Homo sapiens: one gene and its partner. The protein of the gene in region 1 interacts with the protein of each later gene in a pairwise test. Each region holds a gene or a part of one and is shown in the gene's direction. Other genes may lie near its edges.

What was found.
Region 2: the proteins of EPN2 (region 1) and ARRDC1 interact in binary tests that used the Homo sapiens proteins (3 or more experiments, as listed by UniProt).

What each region holds. Positions count from the first base shown.
Region 1 is NC_000017.11:19,240,309-19,247,440, forward strand, and holds part of EPN2 (epsin-2), read left to right. Parts: intron 1-7,132. UniProt on the Homo sapiens protein: Plays a role in the formation of clathrin-coated invaginations and endocytosis.
Region 2 is NC_000009.12:137,608,686-137,615,685, forward strand, and holds the end of ARRDC1 (arrestin domain-containing protein 1), read left to right. Parts: intron 1-3,737; exon of another isoform or gene 3,738-4,071; coding exon of another isoform or gene 4,072-4,210; coding exon 4,211-4,321; intron 4,322-4,774; coding exon 4,775-4,825; intron 4,826-4,929; coding exon 4,930-5,084; intron 5,085-5,295; coding exon of another isoform or gene 5,296-5,346; coding exon 5,347-5,529; intron 5,530-5,613; coding exon 5,614-5,790; intron 5,791-5,873; coding exon 5,874-6,315; coding exon of another isoform or gene 6,316-6,388; coding exon 6,389-6,453; 3' UTR 6,454-6,675; downstream 6,676-7,000. UniProt on the Homo sapiens protein: Functions as an adapter recruiting ubiquitin-protein ligases to their specific substrates. Through an ubiquitination-dependent mechanism plays for instance a role in the incorporation of SLC11A2 into extracellular vesicles.

The sequences.
Region 1 (7,132 bases):
AATCTTGGCTCACTGCAAACCTCTGCCTCCTGGGTTCAAGTGATTCTCCTGCCTAACCTCCCGAGTAGCTGGGACTACAGGCGTGTGCCACCATGCCCGGCTAATTTTTGTATTTTTAGTAGAGATAGGGTTTTGCCATGCTGGCCAGGCTGATCTCGAACTCCTGACTTCAAGTGATCCACCTATCTTGGCCTCCCAAAGTGCTGGGATTACAGGTGTGAGCCACCATGGCCGGCCTTGGATTCGGGGAAGTTGAGGCTGGAAAAGATGTGAGGAATTACGTAGTTTGTATCCCTTTTTTGTCTGCTGGACTTTTAACTCATGTATTCGGTGTAAACAGACCTCTTCTGTCAATACTTTGCCGTCTAGCTCGTCCGATGTTTGGCCCCTTTTTCTCTGCTATCCTACCTTCACCAACCCACACAGTCTGCTGGTGCACTTACGACATTGTCCGTGTATCTGGGGCTCTTGTGACACTGTGACGTCTTTGAGGCCAGTGGTCAGCTTGTCTTTACTTCTCCAGTACCAGGCTCGGTCTCTGATAGATGGTAGATGCTCAGTAAAGGTTTGTCACCAGTATTCCTCGAGGCAGGGGAGCACATTTTTATGGCTCCCTACTGTTCTGTCGCACTGTTGCTGAAATCACTACTGTTGGTTCAGCAATTGTGTGTCAGTTGCATAGGTTTATCCACCTCATCTGCAGGTGAGGAAACTGAGGCCTAGGGAGCTTAAGTTACATGCTCGAGGTCGCGCAGCCAGTAAGTGATTTGAACAGATCTGTTGGACTCCAAAATGTTATTATACCTGTTACCTACTTCGAGGACCAAGTCTCATGGGGATGAAGAGACACACTGCAAGTTAACAGTGGACTGAGGGAGGTGGGGTGATATGATTAAGGTGGTTGAGGATGGGAAGAGCACATTTGTTTTTTGTCAGATGCATTGTGAAATGAATGTTTATGTCCATCTGTTGAGTTTTTGAAAATTGACAAACTTGCCGGGCATGGTGGCTCACGCCTGTAATTCCAGCACTTTGGGAGGCCAAAGCGGCCGGATCACCCTGAGGTCAAGGGATCGAGACCATTCTGGCCAACATGGTGAAACCCCATCTCTACTAAAAATACAAAAATTAGCTGGGCGTGGTGGTGCACACCTGTAGTCCCAGCTACTCGGGAGGCTGAGGCAGGAGAATCACTTGAACCTGGGAGGCAGAGGTTGCAGTGAGCCGAGATCGCACCACTGTGCTCCAGCTTGGCGACAGAGCAAGACTCTGTCTCAAAAAAAAAAAAAAAAAAAAAATTGACAAACTTTCTGATAAGTTCGTCAATGGAATTTTATTGCTTAACTAGTTCATTCAAGTTAACTAAAAATAGAAACTTAGAAAAACAAATACAGTGAAATAAGTATATGTTGAAAGCCGTTTCAGCAGCCTTTTTTTAAACCACTGTAATTTCCATCAACATTTAACATAGGGATTATCACCCATTTGTGAGTAGAAAAACTGAGGCCCAGAGAGGTTAAGTAAGCTGTGAGGAACTGGCACAGCCAGGATTCAAAGTGAATCTGTGTAATTCCCAGGCCTGGGTCCCTTCTGCTCCACTGGCCCCTGTAGAAGGCCCCACAAAATAATAGGTATTCATTTAAATAATAGAATAAATTTGTTGTCTGAAAGTCACCACCAAGTTTATTTAGAAGGTTGGGAATTGTGAATAACGAGATTTCTGGCTCTTTCCTAACCTTAGAACCTTTGAAAACACTGTGGTTTGAATGTCAATAATTAATGGATCATTTTAGCTGAGAGACACTAGATTTGGTGTTTGATCTGAAAAAAAAAAAAAAAAAGCCTAGGCCAGCCACGGTGGCTCATGCCTGTAATCCCAGCATTTTGGGAGGCTGAGGTGGGCGGATCACTTGAGGCCTAGAGTTTTTGAGACGAGTCTGGCCAGTATGGCAAAACCCTGTCTTGACCAAAAAAATACAAAAATTAGCCGGGCATAGTGGCATACACCTGTAGTCCCAGCTACTCAGGAGGCTGAGGCAGGAAAATCACTTGAACCTGGGAAGGGGAGGTTGCAGTGAGTCTCCAGCCTGGGTGACAGAGCAAGACTCTTGTCTCAAAAAACAAAAACAAAAAACCTGTCTTCTTTTGAACCAGATCCGCAACATTGTTAAAATGCTCCCTATCCATGCATTGGATTCTTTCTGTGACTCATTCCCCTAGTACCTAGGTGCTGGAGCCTGCTTCGTTCCTGGGCATAGAAAGTCCTTTTCCTGATTCTGTTTCCTGTTGGTCCTGGTCTAGGCAGAGTGTGCTTCACTTTCAAGCCCTCTAGAGACAGGACAGGTAACTTAATTCTCTTTCTGTTCAAAGCAATACAAGGAATTGGACATGCAAAGGGCTGTAAATAAAGGGACTCCCCATCTTCTCTTCATGGTAACCCTGCTGATATATAGAACAGGGAAAAGTAGGCTCATCCTGGGGGACGGCTGATTGTTTAGGGCTAATGCATGATGTGGATTTAAAAGCATTTATAATTAATCACTTCTGAGTGCAGGCTTCATTTTTCCTCTTGGTCCCACCCCTCTTAGGTAGTTGCACGTTGCAGCAGCTCGATAGCTGAGAACACCAAGTGGTACAGTTAATTTGGCTTCAAAGGCCATGTGGCAGATAGCTTTGGAATGAGGTGTGGGTACTAATGGGCCTCCTGGCTGGGTGGCTTTGGGCACTTTAATCACTGAGCTTTGGTGTCCTCATCTCTAAAGGGGGGCTCGTAATCACTACTTCATGAAATAGACTAGCCTTGTTTCTCAAACTCCTGTGTGCAGCAGAAGCACCCAGAGGGCTTGCTGAACACGTGGCTGGGGCTGCACCCCATTGTTTCTCATTAGGGAGGGGAGGCCTGAGAATGTGTCTTTTTTTTTTTTTTTTTGAGACAGAGTCTTGTTCTGTTGCCCAGGCTGGAGTGCGGTGGCGCGATCTTGGTTCGCTGCACTCCACCTCCCAGGTTAAAGCGATTTTTCTGCCTCAGCTTCCTGAGTAGCTGGGATTACAGGTGTGTGCTACCATGCCTGGCTAATTTTTTTTTTTTTTTTTTTTTTTTTTTTGAGACGGAGTCTCGCTGTCTCCCAGCCTGGAGTGCAGCGGCGCGATCTCAGCTCACTGCAAGCTCCGCCTCCCGGGTTCACGCCATTCTCCTGCCTCAGCCTCCCGAGTAGCTGGGACTACAGGCACCCGCCACCACACCCGGCTAATTTTTTTGTATTTTTAATAGAGATGGGGTTTCACCGTGTTAGCCAGGATGGTCTCGATCTCCTGACCTTGTGATCCGCCTGCCTCGGCCTCCCAAACTGCTGGGATTACAGGCATGAGCCACTGCGCCCGGCCATGCCCGGCTAATTTTTTGTATTTTTAGTAGAGATGGGGTTTTACCACGTTGGCCAGACTGGTCTCAAACTCCTGACCTCAAGTGATCCGCTTGTCTTGGCCTCCCAAAGTGCTGGGATTACAGGTATGAGCCACTGTGCCTGGCAGAGAATGTGTATTTTTAGCCAGCTTCCAAGTGCTGCTGATGCTGCCAGTCTAGGGACCAAATTTGGGAACCTTGGCCCAGAGGACTTTATGGGAAGGTGTGTAAGATGTCTAGCACCTGCTGGCTGTGCAGTAGGAACTCAAAAATGACACTGAAATGTTTCTGAATATTGGTCTGAAGATGATGGATGGCGTGACATTTGGAAAGGAAATGGGGAGAGAAGATGTCATTGTCCTTCAAAAAGGCTGTAAATCTTGGATGCTGTTGAAAAAGCAGGTTCATCATTCTCACACATCATGTAAGAAGTTTACTGTCTAGGCCTTTTAGAATTGTAACTTGGGGGCTGGGTGCAGTGGCTCATGCTTGTAATCCCAGCACTGGGAGGCTGAGGCTGGTGGATCACTTGAGGCCAGGAGTTGGAGACCAGCATGGCCAACATGGCGAAACCCCATTTCTACTAAAAATACAAAAATGAGCCAGGTGTGGTGGCGTGGGCCTGTAGTCCCAACTACTCGAGAGGCTGAGGCACGAGAATTGCTTGAACCTGGGAGGCGGAGGTTGCAGTGAGCCGAGATTGTGCCACTACACTCCAGACTGTGTGAGGGAGTGTGACTCTTCTCAAAAAAAAAAAAAAAAGAAAGAATTGTAACTTGAAAAGGTTGAGGGAGTAATGTTGTTGGGTCCTGGATTCCCACGGGGCCACTTGGCATGGACCACTGGTGTTAATGGAAGTTGCTTCTCCTCCCTGCAGCAATTCAGATTTAATATTCTTTCATGTTTACAGTTCGAATTTTTTTTCTTCAGTGGTAATTATCAACTTGTCCATCAAAACCGAATGTGCAGGGAGGTGTGTGTGAGCCCCGATGGTTTTTGAATATTTCCTGTGTGCGAGGCCTTATATTACTAATTTTATGCACTGTGTTTAATTTTCATGGTGGTCCTGCAAGCCCTATCACCATTTCTCATTTTGCATTTTAAAAAACTAAGAGGGGTTCAGTAACCTGCCCCAGGCCATACAGTTAGTATGAACTCCTGCTGGTATGCCCCAGCTGGTATTTGCTGCCACCTGTGTCAAACTCAGAACTGCTTTATTTCCACGACCTCATTTGCAGCTGTGCCAGGTGCGCCCATTACCTCACTGTACCCTCACAACAACCCCAAGAGGTAGGCTGAGCAAGCTGAGGCTCGGAAGAGGCAAGCTTGGTCATGGGCACCTGGCCAGTGGCTGGCTGGACCTGAATTCAGTCCCACACCTGTCTGATTTTGGAGCTTTATGAAGTTGTTTCTATGATAACAGCTTACCTCTCTGTCAGGTGGCCCTAAGCTGCCTGGATGTGTACAGCAGGGACCTAGGGCTACCCTAGATGGCTTGACCCCAAGGAAGTCTGTGTGGGCTAGTAAGGGTTTTTGTGTTTGCAGAGCTGTGTTAAAATAATTGGCCAAATTTTTCCTTGAGCGAAGGGGACATTTCTTTTTACTTTGTGATCCTGCAGCTCTGCACACTGGTGTGGGTACTAAGGACTGAAAACCCTCTACTAATGCTACTTTGTTAAAAGGGGGTCAAATATGGAATTTGGTAGTCTTTTTTTTTTTTTTTTGAGTTGGAGTCTCTGTTGCCAGGCTGGAGTGCAGTGGCGGGATCTCAGCTCACTGCAGCGGCGGGATCTCAGCTCACTGCAGCCTCTGCCTCCCAGGTTCAAGCAATCCTCCTGCCTCAGCCTCCCGAGTAGCTGGGACTATAGGCATGTGCCACCACACCCAGCTAATTTTTATATTTTTAGTAGAGATGGGGTTTTGCCATGTTAGCCAGGATGGTCTTGATCTCTTTTTTTTTTTTTTTTAAAGATGGAGTTTTGCTCTTGTCGCCTAAGCTGGAGTGCAATGGCGCGATCTCGGCTCACTGCAACCTCCATCTCCTGGGCTCAAGTGATTCTCCTGTCTCAGCCTCCTGAGTAGCTGGGACTACAGGCACGTACCACCACGCCTGGGTAATTTTTTTGTATTTTTAGTAGAGACCAGGTTTTACCATGTTGGCCAGGCTGGTCTCGAACTCCTGACCTCAGGTGATCTGCCCGCCTCGGCCTCTCAAAGTGCTGGGATTACAGGCGTGAGCCACCATGCCCGGCCCTTCTTCATCTCTTGACCTTGTGATCCTCCTACCTCGGGCTCCCCAAGTGCTGGGATTACAGGCGTGAGCTATCGCACCCAGCTGGAATTTGGTAGTCTTAAAAAGTTACATGTGGCTGGGCGTGGTGGCTCATACCTGTAATCCCAGCACTTTGGGAAGCCGAGGCAGGTGAATCATGAGGTCAAGAGATCAAGACCATCCTGGCCAAATGGTGAAACCCCATCTCTACTAAAAATACAAAAATTAGCTGGGCGTGGTGGCGCATGCCTGTAGTCCCAGCTACTTGGAAGGCTGAGGCAGGAGGATCGCTTGAACTGGGAGACAGAGGTCGCAGTGAGCTGAGATCATGCCACTGCACTCCAGCCTGGCGACAGAGCGAGACTGTCTCAAAATAATAAGAATAATAATAATTCCATGTGAAGTATGTCCTTCCCCAGTAGGCAATTAACACCTGGGTTCTAGCCAATGGGTAATTTTCTCTCTGGTCTTAAAATGTCCTGGGGAGGCTGGGGTGTGAGCATTTTCCCAAGGTTTGAGCACTCTTTGCAGCTCCCCAACCAAGGAATGGTAAACAGCTATGTGTTGGTGCTTGCCCTGCACTTGTGGGAGGCCCTGGAGGCTTGGACTTGAGTTTGTTTTGTGAACTCTTTAAGACTCTGAGGTGAATAAATCAATGTGAGCAAAAAGTTGTATTAAAAGGCCCCTTCCGCCCCCCCCAAAAAAATATCCTAGCAATAAAGGGACGCAGTTGTTTTGTTTTGTTTTTTTTTTCCCCCCTGAAAGCAAGTCCTCCCTGTGTGCCTTTTTTTTTTTTTTTTTTTGAAGCGGAGTCTCGCTCTGTCACCCAGGCTGGAGTGCAGTGGCGCGATCTCAGCTCACTGCAGGCTCCGCCCCCGGGTTCACGCCATTCTCCTGTCTCAGCCTCCCAAGTAGCTGGGACTACAGGCGCCCGCCACCACGCCTGGCTGATTTCTTTTTGTATTTATGGTAGAGAGGGGGTTTCACCGTGTTAGCCAGGATGGTCTTGATCTCCTGACCTCGTGATCTGCCCACCTCAGCTTCCCAAAGTACTGGGATTACAGGCGTGAGCCACTGCGCCCAGCCCCCTGTGTGCCTTTTTGATACTCAGAGCTGTCCTGGGATATAATGACTATACTATGGATGACAAAATTTGGGAAACATCTGATTGGAGAAAGAATTTGTATGTCACTTTATGAGAAGCAGCTGGGAGATGTAGAAGTATGGGCATTTCAAGGACAGTTTCATGACTGAGGCCAGTGTCAACCTGAAAAATATGGAACACGTGATCTAGAGGCAAATAATGGTTATAAATGAAATGCCACCAAGAACTTAATCTAATTGAGAAGACAAAGTTACTATTTGTGAGACAGAAGCTAGCAGTTTGTTGAGCCATGATTTTGATTCTTTGTCAGGGGGTCAAGAATGGAGAAAAAATTTAGAAGTCAGGGAAGCTA
Region 2 (7,000 bases), on another chromosome or scaffold:
CCCTGGGAAATTCACCCAGCCTGACCTGAAGCAGTTGCTGAGAGGCAGAGGAGCAGCTCCAGGTGTTTTGGCAGGGAAGCAGCTGGCAGCTGTGCGGGAGCCCCTTGCCTCCCGTGTTCTTACTGAGGAGTGTGTGGGGCAGCTCGGGACAGGTTTCACTTTGGACAGTGGTTGGAGGCTGCTTACTCTGGCAGAGTCATCTCAAAGAGCCTTGGTGTATGTGCAAAACGGGGCCATCTGCATGGGCGTTGGGAAGATCACAGAACCTGGACCCTTAGGATGACCCAAGGGTCAGTTGCATACTGTTTGTTTTTGTGGAGTCAATGTCCCATGACGGTTTTCGCGATGCTTTGCTAGTAGGAGCAGTGGCGTGTGAGGCTCCCGGTTAAATACCATGAGATTCTAAGCGGAATTCTGGGTCTCCTGGTATGCACAGGTAAAATTACAGTAGACCTGTCCCACTCTTTGCCAGAACCTCGTACTTGTCTGCAGTTTGACTGGAATAAGGGGTGTTTGTGTTCCACCTCCCTCCAACGTGTGTTGAGACATTTATTTATTTATTTATTTATTTACGTTGCTCTTGTTACCCAGGCTGGAGTGCAGTGGTGCAATCTCAGCTGCTCACCGCAACCTCTGCCTCCCTGGTTCAAGTGATTCTTCTGCCTCAGACTCCCGAGTAGCTGGGACTACAGGCACGCGCCACCAGGCCTGGCTAATTTTGTATTTTTAGTAGAGACGGGGTTTCTCCGTGTTGGTCAGGCGGGCCTGGAACTCCGAACCTCAGGTGATCCGCCCGCCTCAGCCTCTTAAAGTGCTGGGATTACAGGCGTGAGCCACTGTGCCTGGCCCCAAGACATTGATTTTATTTGAGATGAGGTCTCACTTTGTCACCCAGACTGGAGTGCAGTGGTACAATCTTGGCTCACTGCAACTCCTTCCTCCGGGGCTCCCACCACAGCCTCCTGAGTGACTGGGACCAGGGGCACGCGCCACCACACCCAGCTAATCTTTGGTAGTTTTGGTAGAGATGGGGTTTCACCGTGTTACCTAGGCTGCTGTCACACTTCTGGCCTCAAGCAATCCGCTCGCCTTGGCCCCCCAAAGTGTTGGGATTACAGGCGTGAGCCACTGCGCCCAGCTGTGTCGAGACATTTAATATTTGTCAATCTGATGGATTGAAATGGTAGGTCATTTGGGCTTTCCCTGCAAGCTCCACCTTCCGGGTTCACGCCATTCTCCTGCCTCAGCCTCCTGAGTAGCTGGGACTACAGGCGCCCGCCACCACACCCGGCTAATTTTTTGTATTTTTAGTAGAGACGGGGGTTTCACCGTGTCAGCCAGGATGATCTCGATCTCCTGACCTCGTGATCTGCCCGCCTCGGCCTCCCACAGTGCTGGGATTACAGGCTGAGCCACTGCGCCCGGCCGGGTTTTCTGTAATTTCTAGTGAGGTTGGACATCTGTTCCAGTTACCTACTGCTACGTAAAAGTCGCGGTCACCTCAAGTCAGACACCATTCTTAAAACAGTTAACACAACCATTTTATTATATCTCACAGCGTTGTGGGTTAGGAATCTGGACAGTGAGGGCAGGGTTAATCTTCAGTTCTGTGCCACCAGCTGGGATCACTTGAGGGTGCTTGGCTGGCATACGGGTTAGTCTGGGGACCACTGCCCCCTTTCCGGCATCCTCTGTGGGTTCCAGCATTTTTCTTTTTTTTTTCTTTTTGAGATGAAGTCTCGCTCTGTCACCCAGGCTAAAGTGCATTTGTGCGATCTCAGCTCACTGCAACCTCTGCCTCCTGGGTTTAAGTGATCCTCATGCCTCAGCCTCCCAAGTAGCTGGGATTACAGGCGTGTGCCACCATGCCTGGCTAATTTTTGTATTTTTTTTTTGAGATGGAGTTTCACTCTTGTTGCTCAGGCTGGAGTGCAGTGGCGCGATCTCGGCTCACTGCAACCTCCGCCTCCCAGGTTCAAGCGATTCTCCTGCCTCAGCCTCCCTGGTAGCTGGGATTACAGGCATGTGCCACCATGCCCAGCTAATTTCGTATTTCTAGTAGAGATGGGGTTTCTCCATGTCGGTCAGGCTGGTCTGGAACTCCTGACCTCAGGTGATCTGCCTGCCTTGGCCTCCCGAAGTGCTGGGATTACAGGCATGAGCCACCGTGCCCGGCCTTTTTTGTATTTTTAGTAGAGATGGGGTTTCACCATGTCAGCCAGGCTGGTCTTGAACTCCTGACCTCAAGTGATCCACCCGCCTTGGCCTCCCACAGTGCTGGGATTACAGGTGTGAGCCACTGCACCCAGCTGGGTCCCAGCATTTGCGGGATTCAAGGTGGGGATGTGCAGTCTGTCAGGAGTGTTAAAAGCACGGCAGCATTTCCAGTCCCCAGGCCTCCTCTCCTTGCTTCAGCCACGCCCACCCTCCTCTGTGCCTGCTCATGCCCATGTGCTTCTGTTGGGCTGTCTGCTGGTCCACAGGAGGATTACTGGTGTTCCGGATTTTCAGCATGAACACAGTATGGGGTCTGGCCCGAGGAGGGCCTGGCTAACAGAGCATGGATTCAAAATCAGAGCAGAGCTGGGTACCGTGGCTCATGCCTGTAATCCCAACACTTTGGGAGGCTGAGGCAGGTGGATTGCTTGAGCTTAGGAGTTTGAGACCAGCCTGGACAGCATGGCAAAACCCTGTCTCTATAAGAAAAACAAAAAACAAAAAACAAAACCCAGGTGTGGTGGCACGTGCCTGTAGTCCTAGCTACTTGCGGGGCTGAGATGGGTGGATCGCTTGAACACAGGAGGTTAAGGCTGCAGTGAGCCGAGATCGTGCCACTGCACACTAGCCTGGGCGGCGGGAGTGAGACCGTGTCTCAAAAACAACAACAACAACAACAACAACAAAAAAACAAAAAATGGACCGAGGTTGGGGTGGCAAGGCTGGGCTGGAATGGAGGCTGAGGACAGGCCCTGGCAGCGCCCGGGGGTAGAGGGCGTGCAGCAGGAAGCAAGGGCCACCCTCAGGGATGGGGGACTGGGCCTGGCAGCTGCCGAGGGGTAGGCAGGATGCATGTGGAGAGCCACGTGGGGCTGCGGCTGAGCCAAGGATTGTGAGAGGAATCCTGCTGCTCTGGGTGGCAGGCAGAAGGCCTGGGCCACAGGTGGGGCCTGCTGGGGAGACCACAGGTGAGGCAGGTATGGCTGACCCTGGGCGCTCGGCACACCGGTACTCCTCCTGCCTGGCTGCTCCCTCAGCAGGTGTCAGAGTCTGAGTCACCTTTTCCTCACGTGACCCCCACCAGGACCAGGCAGGGAGGTGGCCATCTTTGGCCCTGACTCAGCCCTGCAGGGAGAAGAGGGGCTGGAGGTGCAGGTGGCCTGCCACTGTCTCCCCCAACCCCTGCCCACCTGGGTCTTGTGCTGTGTGTACTTCTGCTGCGTCTGTCCTCCCTTGTGACCAGCTTCTGCTGGACCTGATTGTCCAGCCATGATCTTCTGATCATCATGGTTTCTGGACACACATCTGTTGGACTAAGGAATTTGTGTTCCTGGCCACAGAACAGTGCCACCTCTGCCTCAAGCAGTTCCTGGTCTGGGCACTCCCCCAGGGAGGCCGGAGAGGACTGAGCCGTCTCCTGATGCAGAAAGTCAGCCCCGCTGGGCAGTGCTCGCCCAGGAAGTAGGGCCCCACCCAACGGTGTGCTGACTGTGGAACACTGTGTCTGCCTAGGCGGGTCTGGCCACATTCCTGCAGCATGATGGTTGGCAGTTAGCTTCCTGGAGTGTGGACGGGTCCTTCCCTGCCTGACTGACTTGTCCACAGGGCAGCAAGAAGATGCGCCCCTTGGTGTGTCCCGAGTGTCTCCTGTAGGCAGCTGAGCTTTCGCAGGTCTGGCTGGGAGCCAAGGTTACCAATCTGGGGGGTAACCCAGCCATCATCTGGATGAGCGTTGGGGTCTTTCTGCTCTGGATTGCAGGGCAGACGTCGTTTTGTGCTGGTCAGGCCCCTCGCCTGCCTGATTCCCTTGGAGCCCCCCAAGACAGGAGATGGGCAGATGTCCTCTGAAGTGGCATGGGCTGCTTGCTCACTGGCCTTCCCAGGACCCTGCCCAGGTGGTGCTGCTTGGCCCCAGGTCGAATTCCTGTGCTGGCAGCAAGCAGGGGCCTGGGCCGTCGGCTGGCTGGGGCTCATGCAGCCATCCCCTTTGCAGCCATCCGGGTGACCTGCATAGGTTCCTGCGGGGTCTCCAACAAGGCTAATGACACAGCGTGGGTAGTGGAGGAGGGTTACTTCAACAGTTCCCTGTCGCTGGCAGACAAGGGTAAGTTTGGGAGCCAGTTCCCGAGTGGTGACCCCTGGGGGCAGCCCTTGGAGTGGGGCCTGTCTGTCCTGTCCTCCCCCTTTCCTAGATCTGCCTCTTGGATCTGGCACTGGCCCATCTTGTCCCAGGGTTGTGGGCCCTGATGGCTTTCTCATAGGCGCTGGGTGGCTGAAGGGGCCACCTCCCCCTTGTGCTGGATTTGGGTGGGCTCTGACCCCTGGCACAGCTGTTTCACCCTTGCCCCATTCCCAAACCACTCTCCTGTTCAAGCCAAGCTCTTATCCTCAGTCCTTCACCCAAGCCACAGCCCTGTGCTGCTGTGGCGCTGGTGACTGAGACAGGGAGACCCAGTGTGAGCTGGTCAGCTGCAGTGCCCACTCTTATCCTGGCCCTGTGGCCACCTCAGGCCACCTCAGGGGGGGACTGCCCCCCACCTCCCTCCTGTCTCTGCAGGGAGCCTGCCCGCTGGAGAGCACAGCTTCCCCTTCCAGTTCCTGCTTCCTGGTGAGAGCCCAGCCTGGACAGGCCTGGTGATGACCAACTGGTCCTGGGAGGTGGGCTCTGCAGGGTGGAAGGCAGCCAGGTACCAGTGCCTGCTCTCTCCCCAGCCACTGCACCCACGTCCTTTGAGGGTCCTTTCGGGAAGATCGTGCACCAGGTGAGGGCCGCCATCCACACGCCACGGTTTTCCAAGGATCACAAGTGCAGCCTCGTGTTCTATATCTTGAGCCCCTTGAACCTGAACAGCATCCCAGACATTGAGGTGAGGATGGCACAGTGACCTCCTTGGTGGGTCCCCACCCTCATGGAGGCTGGGGAAGAGCTGGGCAGGCACTGCTTCATCCCAGCGTCCTGTCCCCAGCTGAGGTGAGGGGGGCCAGGGTCTGGAGGCAGTGGCCTCTTTGCCCTGAGCTGACTGCTGATGTCCAGGGGCAGGGCGTGGCAGGGCTGAGGGGCCTGTCCCAATGCCACAGGGATCCAGCCTGCGCACACCTGCTAAGCCCCTCCCTGGCCCTCCCCCCAAGCAACCCAACGTGGCCTCTGCCACCAAGAAGTTCTCCTACAAGCTGGTGAAGACGGGCAGCGTGGTCCTCACAGCCAGCACTGATCTCCGCGGCTATGTGGTGGGGCAGGCACTGCAGCTGCATGCCGACGTTGAGAACCAGTCAGGCAAGGACACCAGCCCTGTGGTGGCCAGTCTGCTGCAGGTCAGAGCCCCCGCCAGTTGCCTGGACCGGCCTCCTGGGGTGGGCTGGCAGCCTGCGCAGGCTCACAGGCTGGTCCTTCCCCAGAAAGTGTCCTATAAGGCCAAGCGCTGGATCCACGACGTACGGACCATTGCGGAGGTGGAGGGTGCGGGCGTCAAGGCCTGGCGGCGGGCGCAGTGGCACGAGCAGATCCTGGTGCCTGCCTTGCCCCAGTCGGCCCTGCCGGGCTGCAGCCTCATCCACATCGACTACTACTTACAGGTTTGGTGCTGCTGGGGGCTGGGTGGTCTGAGGCCTAGTGGCCTTGGCCCTGGCCCCTCATGCCCCACCTCAATCCTGTCCAGGTCTCTCTGAAGGCGCCGGAAGCTACTGTGACCCTCCCGGTCTTCATTGGCAATATTGCTGTGAACCATGCCCCAGTGAGCCCCCGGCCAGGCCTGGGGCTGCCTCCTGGGGCCCCACCCCTGGTGGTGCCTTCCGCACCACCCCAGGAGGAGGCTGAGGCTGAGGCTGCGGCTGGCGGCCCCCACTTCTTGGACCCCGTCTTCCTCTCCACCAAGAGCCATTCGCAGCGGCAGCCCCTGCTGGCCACCTTGAGTTCTGTGCCTGGTGCGCCGGAGCCCTGCCCTCAGGATGGCAGCCCTGCCTCACACCCGCTGCACCCTCCCTTGTGCATTTCAACAGGTGCCACTGTCCCCTACTTTGCAGAGGGCTCCGGGGGGCCAGTGCCCACTACCAGCACCTTGATTCTTCCTCCAGAGTACAGTTCTTGGGGCTACCCCTATGGTGAGTCGACAGCCAGGGCTTGGCAGGGAGGGGACGCCAAGAGCCCCACGCAGACCCTGCTTTCTTCCCGCAGAGGCCCCACCGTCTTATGAGCAGAGCTGCGGCGGCGTGGAACCCAGCCTGACCCCTGAGAGCTGACCCCGTGCTGCCTTCTCCAGGCAGGCCTGGCCTCTGCCCTGGGACTGGGGCGCCCAGGGCCTCGTGCCTTCTCTCTTGGCCTAGCCTGGCCCACTCAGGACCTGCCCAGCCTCTGCCAGCTCCTCTGGCATCCGCCCTCTTCTCCCTGGGGCTGGGGTGGGGGTGGCAGGGAGCTGGGACCTGGAGAGACAACTCCTGTAAATAAAACACTTTATTTGTAGAGCTGGGCCTCACCGGCCTCGCCTTGGGCACCCTCCAGCCTCTGGCAGGGCCTGACCCTGACCCCATCCTGGGCTCTGCTCATGCCAGGGCAGACCCTGCTCCTCAGGTGCCCCCTACTACCCTGGGGGCGCGCTCAGGCTACCATGCCTGGGCGGAGCCGCGGGGCTGGCTCCCTTTAACAGAGGACGGGGGCTGGCGCTGGGCCTTCCAGAGCCGCCTAAGGACACGTCCTTGGAGCCCGGCTCATGAAATGGGGCCTCACGCAACCTTGGTGTTTGGTTAAATTTGTGCCTTGGCTCCTGTTGCGTTTAGGCACCCAGGTTCC